Homo sapiens: one gene and its partners. The protein of the gene in region 3 purifies or fractionates together with the protein of the main gene of each other region. This does not show direct contact. Each region holds a gene or a part of one and is shown on either strand. Other genes may lie near its edges.

Region 1 (3,500 bases), on a different chromosome or scaffold from region 3:
TATTTTCAGTGCTCAGAAAAGCCACTGACATGTGGCAAGAGTTCTATTTTCTTTGATGAGTAAATGTGTAAATGGATGAAGCCTTTCTCTGTCTAAAATGCCTCTCCCTAAAGAAATTGATCTTTTAAAGCTTTTTTTCAAATGCCATCTCCTCAAAGAAGCCTTTTTGGATTGCTTTTTGATATCCCTCAAACCACGCATTTGCTGCTAAGGATTCTTACCAAAACTTGCCTTGTGGTTTAATTAGTTGGGTCCTTGTATTATTTCTCCAATTTGACTTCAAGCTCCTTGAAAATAGGAATTATATCCTACTAGTGTGCATTCCCCATAGGCGGTCTTTAACACAGTGCCTGCGCACAGTAAGTTAAATAAATAACTATTTTATGAATTGAAAACAAAGCCCCTTTCATGCAAGAGCTTGTAATAAAAAATGTTTACAAAAAGGCAACTAAAAGGACTAGATATACTAAATAACAGAAAATTAAGTTGCTGCCACATCTAAATAAAAAGCCCAAGTACTACTTTACAAATATAAGGAAAACAATCTTTTTTTTTTTTTTCAAGACAGAGTCTCACTCTGTTGCCCAGGTTGGAGTGCAGTGGTGCGATCTCGGGTTACAGCAACCTCCACCTCCTGGATTCAAGTGATTCTCCTGCCTCAGCCTCCCCAGTAGCTGGGATTACAGGCATATGCCACCATGCCTGGCTAATTTTTGTAATTTTAGTAGAGACGGGGTTTCGCCATGTTGGCCAGGCTGGTTTCGAACCCCTGACCTCAGGTGATCTGCCCGCCTCGGCCTCCCCAAGTGCTAGGATTACAGGACTGAGCCACCGTGCCCGGCCAAGGAAAACAATCCTGATACTTAACAAATCGACACACATACAAAGCTTTCACATCTGTTGACCACAAGAAATGATTGTAATCTTGTTTCTCATTAAGGGAAAGAAATTCAAGAGCTGGAACCAATATATATGAAGCTTCGAACATCCTTGCATCCTTAAAAGGATGTTGCTAAATACTCCTTGAGAACTGAGACCCTTTAAAGTAATTCATAATAAGCATGAGAATCGGCCAGCTCTAATGACTTGTTCATAGGTAGGCATTTTTTTTTTCTGAGATTCAATCTGCAAAAAGACGTCTAGGCCAGGAACTCCCAAACTCTGCTGCTGCACGTTAGAATCACCTGGGGAGCTCTTAAAACTCCTGAAACACAGATGTTAGTAGTTTGTAACGATCAATAGATGATCTCCACGTGTAGCAAAGAATGATTCACAGCCTGGGCTAATTTAGCTGAGGAAAAAGTTCTGGTCATTTCCCACTGTGGCCACTAGATGCCGCTACGGCCTGAAGACTGGAGAGGTTTTCTAGTACTTTTCCATCAGAGGAAGGGACGCTGGCGTTGATGTTTCCTATTACAAAGGAGCAAAGAGAACTTACTTTGTGTTAGCTTATTTTGAGAGAACAATACCTTGGAAAAGGGAGTTTGGATACTGAATGATGAAATAGATTAAATGTCTGCTGAATTGAATACTAGAATAGTGAGGTAATATTTCAATAATTTTATCTTCACTGTCTACCCATTGACATAGGTTCCTTAGTTTAAAAAAAAATGCTTTGATGGAATGCTAACATTTTGGAGATGGAAAATACCAGGATATAAAGTAATGATAGGGGAAGGCAATTGTTTGCTGCTCCCTTGAGGTTTTCAGGACTCTGTGCTCTGGTCCTTTTGTCAGGGCCTTTCTTTCTTTTTCTTCTTCTTCTTTTTTTTTTTTTTTTTTTTTTTTAAGACAGAGTCTCACTCTTGTCGCCCAGGTTACAGTGTGGTGGAGTGATCTCAGCTCACTGCAACTGCAGCCTCCACCTCCTGGGTTCAAGCGATTCCCCTGCCTCAGGCTCCCGAGCAGCTGGGATTACAGGTGCGTGCCACCACGCCAGGCTAATTTTTGTATTTTTAGTAGAGATGGGGTTTCACCATGTTGGCCAGGCTGGTCTCCAACTCCTGACCTCAGGTGATCCACCCACCTAGGCCTCCAAAAGTGCAGGGATTATAGGCGTGAGCCACCACGCCCAGCCAGGGCCATTTTTTCTATGCCTGGCTATCGTCTTTGCTTCTAGGTCTGAGCTTATAGAAGTCTTCCTTGATTCCCTGCTACAAAACATATACTGTTCTCTTCTTACAGCGTATTTACTAGCTGTTCTGTCCAAGCTCCTCATAGTCCAGGACCTTGTTCTGTTCACCCTTCTACCCCTAGGGCCTATCTAGCAGAGTTTCCAAGGCAGATAATAATAGCTCTTCTGTACAATAAAAGGTCACAATAGGTCTTTTGTAAAATATGTGAAAGAATGGCTTAGGGAATGTGGGGAAACACTTTGTAAGTTAGATTTGATGGTGAAAAGTATATGAGAAAAACGCATTATTTTTAAATAGTTTCTGATGAAATTGGATTCAACTTAGGAACCTAACAAGGAAAACTGGATAGAATGCCAGTTTTAAGAATAGAATTTCATAGCTTCATCAATACTTAGGGCTGGAGAAGATTTGGAGGTCATCCAGTTAAGCCTCTGCTACGATGTTTTAGATTCCATTTCAGCGTTCCATGCTAAGCAGTTGCCTGGGCTTTGATTGGAGCCATCCAATCAGTGCTTCCAAAGCAGACAATTCTGCCAAACTGTGGTGACTATTTGAAAGTTATTCCTTGTGTGGAGCCCAAATTTTCCCTCCAGGGCTTCTACCCATTGGTCTTAATTCATACCGCTGCAGCTCCACAGGTGGAGACTATGACATCTGCCCACGGGCTTCCAAAACGATGAGATCATGGTCTCCTCCTAGCTAAGTGTCCTCAGCTAGTTTGCATATAATAATATTGAAATACTTAATGTAATAACAGTAATAAGTAATAATAATCTTTTAGGTTTCCTTGCCCTCTTTCAAATACGTTTCATAAATGATTCAATACTATTTCTTATGATTTGCGAGAAAACAAATCCGTCTTCTGGGTGACCAATAAAAAGTGATTCCTCCCTGATGCCACAGAGTTGTTTTGGTTTTTGTTTTTGTTTTGAGACAGAGTCTTGCCCTGTTGCCCAGGCTGAAGTGCAGTGGTGCGATCTCGGCTTACTGCAATTTACGCCTCCCAGGTTCAAGCGATTCTCCTGCCTCAGCTTCCCGAGTAACTGGAACTACAGGCGCATGCCACCACATCCAGCTAATTTTGTATTTTTAGTAGAGATGGGGTTTCAGCATGTTGATCAGGCTGGTCTCGAACTCCCGACCTCAAGTGATCTGCCCACCTCGGCCTCCCAAAGTTCTGGGGTTATAGGAGTGAGCCACCACGCCCAGCCTTACAATTTGTTAATAAGCTCAAGACAGATTAGTGACTATCAAATATCATTGACACAGCTATTTCTACAAACATCTTCACTTACTAGAACATATCTGATTAAGAACTGCCTTTACCCTCTTCTTTTCCTCAGACGAAGCAATTTAAAGGACTTC
Region 2 (3,500 bases), on a different chromosome or scaffold from region 3:
GGAGGATCACTTGAGCCCAGAAAGTCAAGGCTGCAGTGAGCTGTGATCTTACCACTGCACTCCAGCCTGGGTGACAGAACAAGACTCTTGTGTCAAAAAAAAGTGATGTTTACGTGTTTAAACTCTGTTTATGGATAGAGAGGAAAAGATGGGTGGCAGGCACATACATTCTACCTGGCACCTGAAGGCTGGAGGTCGATATGAAGGTAGATAGTGCGCTGTGGCAGGACATGGATAAATGTTACTCTGCTGTTCTGAGTTGCAGTTCTCTGTTTCAGTGATTAAGGAGAAATGCCTCAATTGATCACTGGAATAGCAATGGTGGGTTCCGACTGCCAGAGGGAGGCGAGGAGGTTTGGATGTGTGCTCTTGTAGAAAAGGGCTGTGCTACTGGTGTGCAGCCTCAGGTGCATCATAGGTTTCTCGTCACCAGCCTACTCTAGGTCCATGTCATTAGCTTTCTTTGGGTTCTCTCCACAATTACCATCTTCCACGAAAAACTCATTTTTCTCATAGGCCAAGCAAAAAGTAGGCCGGAGCACTTCATCAAATCCTTAATGACTGTTGAGCTCTAACCTGGACAGAGAACACTGACTCACAGGCACTGTTAACCCCAGGCCTTGCCTGGCTGTGGCCTCTAACTCCCCGGAACCACAGGGCCTGCCTCTGTGTCATGGCTGATTTAGGGTGGCTCATGCTGGTGGCTGTATCTCAGGAACCCAAGGCAAGGTGGTTCCCTCCATCCCTACCACCTTCTCCAAAATCTGCCTGGGGTCTGTCAGAGGTTTGGTAGCCAAGATGTGTCTCCATGTTCCAGCTGCAGAGCCTGAGTTGAAGTAAATAAAATCACTCTTTTCTCTTCAGGAAGAGATTCCGTTTTGTAAAACATCCTAAGTTAGAAGCCTTAAAAATCCTACTCTGTGCCCCTCTTTCTATTCCTTTCTTTCTTTCTTTCTTTCTTTTTTGAGACGGAATCTCACTGTGTCACCCAGACTGGAGTGCAGTGGTGCGATCCTGGCTCACTGCAACCTCCGCCCCCCGGGTTCAAGTGATTCTCCTGCCTCAGCCTCCCGAGTAGCTGGGATTACAAGCACCTGCCACTGTGCCTGGCTAATTTTTGTCTTTTTAGTAGAGATGGGGTTTCATCATCTTGGCCAGGCTGATCTTGGACTCCTGACCTCGTGATCCACCCACCTCGACCTCCTAAAGTGCTGGGATTACAGGCATGAGCCACTGCTCCCGGCCTCTGTGCCCCTCTTTCTAAGTGCTGTTCTGAGAATTAGTGACTCTAATTTCACTGGCAAATGCTTTAAAAGGCAGCATTCATACCCTCTCCCTTCCTTCCAGCTGAAGACTAGCCTTTTTCTGGCCAGGAGTGTGAAGCTTTCTGTAGGGCTGTTTTAAAGGCAGCCCTGCCACAAGCCACTAATTGGCATTCCCAAAACATCAGCATTGACATCTGGGAGTCTGCCCTCATCACCACCCACCACTTCTCTGATGTGGCCACTGCCATTGTCTCAAAATGACTTGGTTCCAATTCTGGGGCAATTCGGTACCGATATATGCCATCCTATGACTCTTAGAAGTCTAGGGTATACCAAATATTCCTTTATTTTCTCTGTCTAAACCGAATTCCCTAATTCCCGCCTTGGAGCGTCCCTCTGGATTGGCTGAGTCTCTGTGCACATGCACAGGTGCCTGCCCTTCTCCCTACTAGGTTGTGCCAAGAGTCCATCAGCATGGGGGCCCTCTGGTTGGTGGTCATGAGTCCTCACAGGGAGGCCTCTGCATCCTTATTTGCCTGCCCTCCTGAGGTCCTGCCATAACATACCTGTTCTTCCTGAGGACTTCTGCCGTCTTGAACACTGCCGATAAGTGCCAGCCCTGAAGCTCCGGGGCCCGCAGCCCTGCTGCTCTCACAGATCCCAAGGGAAACTTTTTTCCTAGCCTGGGAGATTCCCTTTCTCCCTCTTCTTCTCCCAGGCCAGTCAGCTTCTTCCTGCAGCTCCTCTCCAATTTCTTTCTCCCCTCAAACCTGTCAGGCTCTTTTGTGAGTGCAGGCTTTTTTCAAGTGAATAATTTGCTGGTTCTGACCAGATATCTACCTCCCCTGAGACAGTGAAACTCAGAATCATTGGCCCCTTCAATGGAGAGAAGACAGAGGGGAAAAGAGAGGAAAATGTGAATTAATTTTATTATATTTTATGGTCATAATGTCATTATGTTCAAATCACAGATACTTATTGTGTCCTGCCTTGTCCTGAGGACTGTGTGAGGCACCAGGAATCCAGATAATGAATGACACACAGCTGGGTCCCCCGAGGATCATAGTCTGATGGGGGAGATAGACGTACCACTGAGATTGTAGGGTGGCGTAAAATGCGGGAAGACAGAACCCAGAACTAGCCCAACAGAGAGGCTCTTAATTGAGGCCACTAGGAGACAGGGAGAACTTAACAGAATATATGGTCCATGCAGGTGGGGATTTTTTTTTCCTGTTTTGCTTATTGTTATAGACCCACAACCTAGAAATGGTGCTCTTGTAATATGACGTTTATTGCTGCATGAATGGATGAATAAGTGAGGAGGTGGTGGAGTCATTGAGAATGTTAGCAGAAGGTCTGTGGGGGATTTGGGAAAACAATATATTTGTCAAGGTGCCAGTGGAAAAGATATGGTGCAGTCATATTGGGTAATTGGAGGAAAGTTTAAGAAGGTGGTTATTTACAAAGGTGTGTGCAGTGCATGGGGAATCCACAAGAGATAGTGTTCTGCCACAGGGGTGATAGCAGTGGGATATGACCAACCCTAGGCCAAAAGGGGCAGGGGAGAGAGCAGTGATTGAAACCGGGAAGGAGGGAGACTCTATGGAGAGGGTCACCTTGAGAAGAACTGTGATCTTCAATTAAGGGACATAGCAGCCCAAGAGGACTGTGCAGGGAGGGAACCAGGAAATGAAATAACATGACCTTACTCTCTTCCCTTCCTCAGTCATCTACTGGGGCTCCTCATGGGTGAACCTCTTTGGAAGCCAGAGAGCGAGGGAGTCTGTTGTTATAGTCCACACAGGCCAGCCTCCTGGGGCATGTAGCCAGTGCAGAGTAGATTGGGAAAGGCAGACCGAGGCCATCCAGACAGTCGCTTTCAGGAAATCAGCACTTGTCTCACAGTGCCTGGACTTGGTCTTGAGGGGCCCTGGAAGTCATGGAACCTTTAGCTGGAAAAGTTATAGCAACACAAAGTTTCTGAAGGACTAAGCAGATATTCTTGTTTTACAAAAATTACCACTTAGCATCCATGGAGTAGCTTTTATGTTCTTTGTCCTTTTAGGCAAATAATCTCCCCAAAGCCATCGCCGCTGCTCACACCTTTCTACTGAAGCATCCTGATGACGAAATGATGAAGAGGAACATGGCATATTATAAGAGCCTGCCTGGTGCCGAGGACTACATTAAAGACCTGGAAACCAAGTCATATGAAGTATGTTTGGATTTTTATGT
Region 3 (3,500 bases):
TGGGCCAGTCTTGTGCTTTCCAGTCCAGAGGCTAGAGCTGGGAGAATGCCTTGGGAGGAGGAAGAGTTCTGATGAAGGCTGCAGCTACTCTCTCCCTGCCTGGCCAGGCTCCTGAAGGGGGCCAAGTACTTCCAGCCTGGAGTTTGTGGGTGGAAGAAAGAAGATGGCCATGTGGGACAGGAACTGCTTTACCCCCTCACTCTGCTGAGTCTGGAGGTTGGTGCTTGCTCACCACTTGGGGCAGGTCATCTTCCCTCTCTGGGCCTCAGTTTCTACATAAGTAACAGGGTGGAATGTAGGTTGGGCTAGATTCCCTCTAAGGGCCTTTTTAGCTCTAAATTTCTCTGAATCTATTTGCATCCACAGGAAGTTACATAAACACATACACTCATACATGGATCAAAGTCTTTGTTTACCTCCAGGGTTCCTAGCTCTTTCCTGTTCAGCAAAAGAAATTTGGCTCAGGATGGATGAAGGGGGAAATAGGCAAATACTACTTCTCCAGGTAACCAGTAGCCGAGCAGCCTCCGCCAGCTGTCTTTTGTGCCAGCTTGGCTGTTGAAGCCCAAGTAACTGGCAGAGACTCCTGCCATGCCATTCTCCTTCAAACCTCTGTCATCTGCTTGCCCACAAATGTCCTCGTCCCATTCTCCATGCAAGCATTGGTCCTCTGGCAAATTCACACCAACATAATTCCAAACTGCACATCTATTTCCACATTCTCTCATCAGTAAATTGCTTTGTCACTTTGCCAATGACTTAGCAGCAATAGGGCTCCCCAGCTACCTATTGCTTCCCTCATCATCCCTCGCCCTCTAGAGTTCCTTTGGAGGGTTCAGAATGAATCAAGGGTCCAGTGGAGATCCTATTTCCTTTATCATCCCCTCCATGTCTGGAGAATAGAATGGTATCAGGATGCTCTTTAGGGGCACAATTAGGAAGACTTTTCCTCCTCTCTCCTCACACCTTTCTGGCCTCAGAACCAGTCCTCTCTTTCAGGTCTTCCCTCCATCCCTGAGAGACCCTGGTAGTATCAAAGTCTCTAAGGTATGGTGGAAAGAGATAAGGAGTCACACTAGTAGTTGTGGGAAGCAGGCTGGCTCCTGTAAGCTGTCTGTAGGGTAATGAAAGGAGGACTTTGCCCACAGTAGGGGCTCTACACATGATGGTTGGCTGGTTCCTAGGATGGGTGAAAGAACATAAAGGCCACAAGTTCTGTGGGTCCCAGAGGCCTGCTGCTCCAACATTGTGCCAGGAAGATTCTTCTGAACACAAGAGCTCTAAGGCTGTTCGCTGTTTTCCAAAGAAATGTCTGACTCTTTTTGCCACAGAGCCCCTGGCAGCCGAGAGGACGGGTATTACCATCGAGGAATGAAATCAGGCATCTCTGGGTTTCTCCCCGGAACTCTCAAGGATTTCAGTTCCCAATTACCACTTTTATTGGTTCTCTCTAGACCTCAAATTCCACACAATGCTGTGGTGTAATGGAACAGCTTTGGAGTCAGACCTGGCTGAAGCTCCAGGTCTGCGGCTTAAACTGGTCAAAACACTCTGAGAGTGCTACCTCTCTGAGCCTCATCTAAACAATGATGTTTGTCATATTATCAGCCTTGCCTTCTTCAAAGGAGATAATACAAGAGAAATTATTTTCCAAACATGAAGGAGTGGTTCTTGTTGGTTTCTGCTACAACTGCGGACTGTCCGAGGCACTTTATAGGAGTTAGGGCCAGACACATGCCTGGAGTTCACCTCACCTTGGGTTGCAAGGCTGTCATTAGCAACCAGACAACGGAGGCCTAGCCCATCACGTCTCACCCTGACCCTTGAAGGGCCAAGCAGTGTGGTTGCTTAGAAAGGGAAGGCACAGCTGAGAAATAAGTACCCGCTGTTCTTGGTGAATTTCAGCTGCCTGAAGGAAATTATTCCCCATCTCCTGAAAAGGAAACACATTTCAGGAACAAGAGGAGCAGACTGTACAAGGCTGGCCTTCCCAGGTTTGGGCTGGATCTAGCACCCAGAAACCAGGCTGAGCCCAGGCACTTTGAAGTAAGGCTCTCGAGGGTCCTACCATATGATCTGTTGGGAAGCTTGGGGTTTAGGGGAAGGTGAATTTGGACCTGAACTAGGGGGCAGATCCCTGCTCAGTGCCTAGACACTGGCTTCTCCTGAGCCTGGCTTTAGGGGAGCAGCATGAGCACCTGCGGTGACAATGCTCTGCTGTGGCTTTTTGAAGCCAGAGTGAAGAAAGACTGGGTTAGTACAGCATCAGCTGCTGGCCTTTCAGATAAGGCCTGGCCTAACGTCCACTTGGGTTGCAGCAAACTTGAACAAAATCCCTCTGTCCTATCCTCACCCCTTGCCCTTTCTAGGCCAGGTAAAAAGGCTCTGCCTTGCTAATGCCCAGGAGCAGTCTAGGATTTGGGAATTTAGAAGGCTGTGGTGAGGGCTAAGAGTCACAGGTACTAGAAATTGAAGGGACTTCTGGAGGTCATCCCGTCCAACCCTTCGTCCCCAGACAGAATTTGATTAGGAATGGATGAAAAACATTTGTACTGCTTAATAAATGGAAAATTCTGTTTGTGCCCAGGTAAGCTAAAGAATATCCCAGACTCACATGACCACAGGTCCCAGGTTAGGCACCTGTCTCAGACAGAGGTAGGCTCCATGGAGAAAGAAGACAGGAGTTCTAGTCAGGCTGGGAATGGGGGCAACTAGAAGGTGACCCCAGGGAATTTTCTGAGTGTGGAGCACAGCTGTAAATAAAATGAGAGTCATGTGACCCAAGTACGGATTCAGGGTCTTAGGCGGGCAGGTTTGTGGCCATTCCCTGTGATTGTTCCAAAGCACAGCAAACTTCCCAAAGCCCAGCAAGCTGCCACGGTGTGGCTGTCAGCTGGAGTGGGAAGAGCACTCCAACCCTCCTGCAGGCCACAGTATAGAGCAGAAAGAACATTCCCACTGCCAAGGATGCTCCTTGGCAGGTTTCTCTTATGGTCTCTGCCAAAAGCACCTGCCTTTTCCCTCTCTGGCCTTCTTCTTAGGCTGCAATGCTCCCTTCCCACTCCACCCCAGCCACTACCCTACCCAAGAGAGGAGCAGCAGCCCCCTTGGGGTCAGATGTCCACCCCCAGAGTCTGGAGTGCACCTTTGCTTTCTCTGGCCTGCTGCCCTGGATCCTCATTTTAGTGCAACAAACAATAGATCTGACAACAGGGACCTCGGGGTTGAAGAGTCATGCCATAAGTCAGTCAACATGGAACCAAAGAAGGTTCTGCTTCATGTAAACCCTGGGGCTCCATCAACTGTCCTGTTAACTCAAGGTCATTCTGGAAAGTCAAGCAGGCCTTGTCACCCTGGAGTCACTGGGGAATAAATAACACTGGGGCATTTCTCTGCGGCTGCAACACCAATACACCTCACTCCACAGCAGCACTTAGAGGTTCTGGGAGTCCTGGCTCCCAAACCCAGGGAAGGGGCACGGACAGAGGCAAAATGGGGGG
Region 4 (3,500 bases), on a different chromosome or scaffold from region 3:
AAATGAAATTATAACAGAAAAAAAGAATCTGGCATATTACAGTGAAAAGCTCCTAGGAAATCAGCATCTAAGAAGAGAAACTCATTATTATAACAGGTTTTTAGGATAATGCAGAGGAATGGAAGATTTCTCCCAATTTTACTTTTCATTTCAACCTTCTACTTCTAAGCACTACTGAACAATGGAATGCAGACAGAGACAGAGTTCTAGGTTTCTGCTTTCTCTGTATATGAGACTACATAAGGCTGGTCTTTATGTTAAAAGCAAACAAATGACAAAAACTAAAATTACATTTTGCCCAATGGTGCTGTTAGCCTGATAAAAGATTTTGCAAAGCTAACCAACTCTTTACATTTCTATTATAATCAGAGAGCTTTTAATACAAACTTTTGGGGTTTAATACAAAGGTAAATTTTATTGCTTCCACAGCAATAAATACTTCTCCAGTAAAATTACAACTCAAGAGAAATAAGCCCATAAAATTATTATGTAAGTAGGCCTGAGTGTTAGCTTTAGGAGGAAAATAATACAAATGTGAAAATAGTAACTAATAATAGCTATCATTGTAGGTGATAATACACAACACTGTGTTTTATATATCCTTCCATAGAAAGGTAACATTTAGTCTTCCAACAAACAAGTAACTTGCTACAGGTCACTCAGCTAGTAATGTCAAAGATAAATTACACATCAAAACCTGTCCAAAGTTAGTACTTACAATATACCAATGATGTACAAATGAAAATGATCAATTTATTTTATCAGAGAGGCACCAATACTATGATTCATCCTACCAGAAGGATATTAACCTGACCTCAAGAAACAATAAAGTATAGCACTTTACAATAAAGTATACCACTTAATTGAATACTAAACTGGGTGGCACAGAATGTAAATGGTAGAGAAGCTAAATAAAGGCCACCACTAATCTATGAATATTTCTTAAGATGGGTGAGACGTAAGTGTTGCATAGTTTAGAGGGAAAGAGGAAAGAACAATGGGGTAAGTAATTCAGAATGAAGTAAAAAACCCTGGGCAAGCACCAGGAAAAAAATAATGCCCGAGGAAACAGCTAAGAGAATAACTTTATAAGAGCAGCGATTCATTAGGTGGGGATCTCTAAATATTTGCTATCAGTATTACGTAACTACTTAAATTGCTTCTACTTATCCAAACTAAATTATTTTATAAAATTTTACATACCTTTCTTAATAGCTTTGTACTTCTCTTCATTCTCCATAAAATTAGGATCCATCTTGAAAACATCTAAAAAAAATGTAAAAGTTAATGTTTATTTTCTATATTTACATTTGTTGGTAAGCCTCTTTCCAACTAACATGCCCCGGACTTACTAAGAACATCTTCTGGATTATAGTCATCCTCCAGAGGGAGCATATGAGTGAATTGATCATCTTCTTCCACCAAATCAAGACCTTCTAGGATAATGGGGTGGTCCTTGAATCCATCTTTCCGTACAGCAAACATCACTTCAATCATATATTGAACTCTTTTGTCAATTTCAGACTCATGCAGAATGTTTCGAAGGCGTTCAAATATAGCTAAAAGTTAACAGAAAGAAAAGACAATAAAATAAGCAATAAATATAATAAAAACTTAACATCAAACTATGAATGTACACTTACCATTGATTCCTCTTGGTGACACTTGTGTTAATTTGAGGCCACATTCCTTAAGAAAACCAATAGCTACTTCAACGCTATCATCTGTTGGTCTTTCCAGGAGCAAAGTGAGCATCTCTAAGCATAATACTTCGTGTGCCTTAAATAAAATACATATACAAGGAAGAAACAAAATGCTTTTACATACATTAAATTATTTTTATAATTTCTAAAAATTAGTAAATCTGTTTACAATAATTATATTGCACATATGATGGGCAAAGTTTTATAAAGCACATGGAAATACTCCAAATATGGGATACAATTTTTCTATCACTTTTATTATCTGTCTACTAAGAATTTTCAGATGACTGTTTCAAAAATCTTAATTTTCTATGCTGAATACAACTATTTGAATTATCTTCAGAAGAAATATTCTTAGCCATTATGTACGGAAAGTGTCATAGATAAAATATGTTAAAAATCATATACTACTTTCTAATAAGGTAATTATTTTCATAATTACTACATAAGAAATAGTAATATGATTTATAATACCCTTCTCCATGATCACAATTCTTTATATACATTTCCCAATTCATTCTATCAGCAACTCTATTAGACACAAATAGTCCTTAAGTTACATGAATACTAATTTTATCACAAAATATCTTAACAACTTCTGGAACACAACAGTTTTGAATAGTCTATCTTTTTTTAAAAAATTAAATCAAACTATTACTGGCCACGTTCAAAAACTGACATTTATAAACAATGCCAGGAAGAGTGGGAATAAAATTCTATTGAGAAGTTTGCTAAGAGAAGAAAACGAACAACAAAGAATGTTTAAAACACCATACATATGCCTTTCTAAAGTCAGACAGTGATTTAAGATGGTGAGGAAAGAAGTCTAAATCTCAACTCAGGAGATATCTTCTTCCAGCTGTGCACAACATCAAAGACACCCACTACTTCTTTTTACTAGGGGAGGAGGGGTGTCAAACAGTCTTAGGTCAGTGACAAGAAAATACTGCCCTGTACCACAGCTGGAAGATGCAAAAAATTTATCATATCGAGTGTTTCATGGCAATGCCAAAAATCTCTAGTCTAAGTGTAATACACATTTAAAAACGGAAATATATCTCTGGTTACAGATGTGAAATTAAGTTTCCATGGTCTTAAGTAGCAAGTTATCACTGTAATAATATGATGACTAATTAGGTCAAAATCTAAAAGATTTGTAAGAGTGAAAGAATTTTCATGTAAATAAGAATCAAAATATTTAATATTAGTGAAATAAGACTAAGCATGACTTTAAAATTCTTCCTGTTATACATGATATTAAATTGGAAATGATAATATATATCTGAAGGAAACTTTTGAGTATGAGCAAGGACAATTTTAGCATTTTCATGGTTAAATAAAAGCTAAATCAAAACCATCAAATAATGAATATAAAATAAACACAAACTGAATAACAGCATGATAAAATTACCTGCATTTGAAACAGATTAAAATCGATCAACTCTATTCTATCAAGTGATTCTAAAAATATATGACTATACCTGTGTGGTTGCAAGGAATAGAGGTTTTTGTAGAATATCAGATATTTATTAGATTCTCATGAACAGCAGGGAATGAAGTGGAGGAGATACCAACTTTATTGTTTTATAAAAATGAAGGGAATGGTTCTTCAAAGGAATGGTTTGCAGTCAAGTAACCATGTACAGTATTAAGTCAGATTAATTTGATAAATATCTAAAGTGTTTTGATCAGCATCAAAGTGTTATATTAAAGAATATTAAATATGGCCAGGCGTGGTGGCTCACACCTGTAATCTCAACACTTTGGGAGGCCGAGGCTGGTGGATCACGAGTTCAG

The links.
Region 1: the proteins of EDA (region 3) and P3H2 purify together in Homo sapiens (affinity purification with mass spectrometry; 4 studies listed by BioGRID and IntAct, with this or other methods). This does not show direct contact.
Region 2: the proteins of EDA (region 3) and CRTAP purify together in Homo sapiens (affinity purification with mass spectrometry; 3 studies listed by BioGRID and IntAct, with this or other methods). This does not show direct contact.
Region 4: the proteins of EDA (region 3) and CWC22 purify together in Homo sapiens (affinity purification with mass spectrometry; 4 studies listed by BioGRID and IntAct, with this or other methods). This does not show direct contact.

Annotation. Positions count from the first base shown.
Region 1 is NC_000003.12:189,960,398-189,963,897, forward strand, and holds part of P3H2 (prolyl 3-hydroxylase 2 isoform a precursor), read right to left. Parts: intron 1-3,500. UniProt on the Homo sapiens protein: Prolyl 3-hydroxylase that catalyzes the post-translational formation of 3-hydroxyproline on collagens. Contributes to proline 3-hydroxylation of collagen COL4A1 and COL1A1 in tendons, the eye sclera and in the eye lens capsule.
Region 2 is NC_000003.12:33,117,014-33,120,513, forward strand, and holds part of CRTAP (cartilage-associated protein isoform 1 precursor), read left to right. Parts: intron 1-3,330; coding exon 3,331-3,480; intron 3,481-3,500. UniProt on the Homo sapiens protein: Necessary for efficient 3-hydroxylation of fibrillar collagen prolyl residues.
Region 3 is NC_000023.11:70,035,613-70,039,112, reverse strand, and holds part of EDA (ectodysplasin-A), read right to left. Parts: 3' UTR 1-3,500. UniProt on the Homo sapiens protein: Cytokine which is involved in epithelial-mesenchymal signaling during morphogenesis of ectodermal organs. Functions as a ligand activating the DEATH-domain containing receptors EDAR and EDA2R. May also play a role in cell adhesion.
Region 4 is NC_000002.12:179,969,298-179,972,797, forward strand, and holds part of CWC22 (pre-mRNA-splicing factor CWC22 homolog), read right to left. Parts: intron 1,780-3,500; coding exon 1,644-1,779; intron 1,560-1,643; coding exon 1,353-1,559; intron 1,267-1,352; coding exon 1,204-1,266; intron 1-1,203. UniProt on the Homo sapiens protein: Required for pre-mRNA splicing as component of the spliceosome. As a component of the minor spliceosome, involved in the splicing of U12-type introns in pre-mRNAs. Promotes exon-junction complex (EJC) assembly.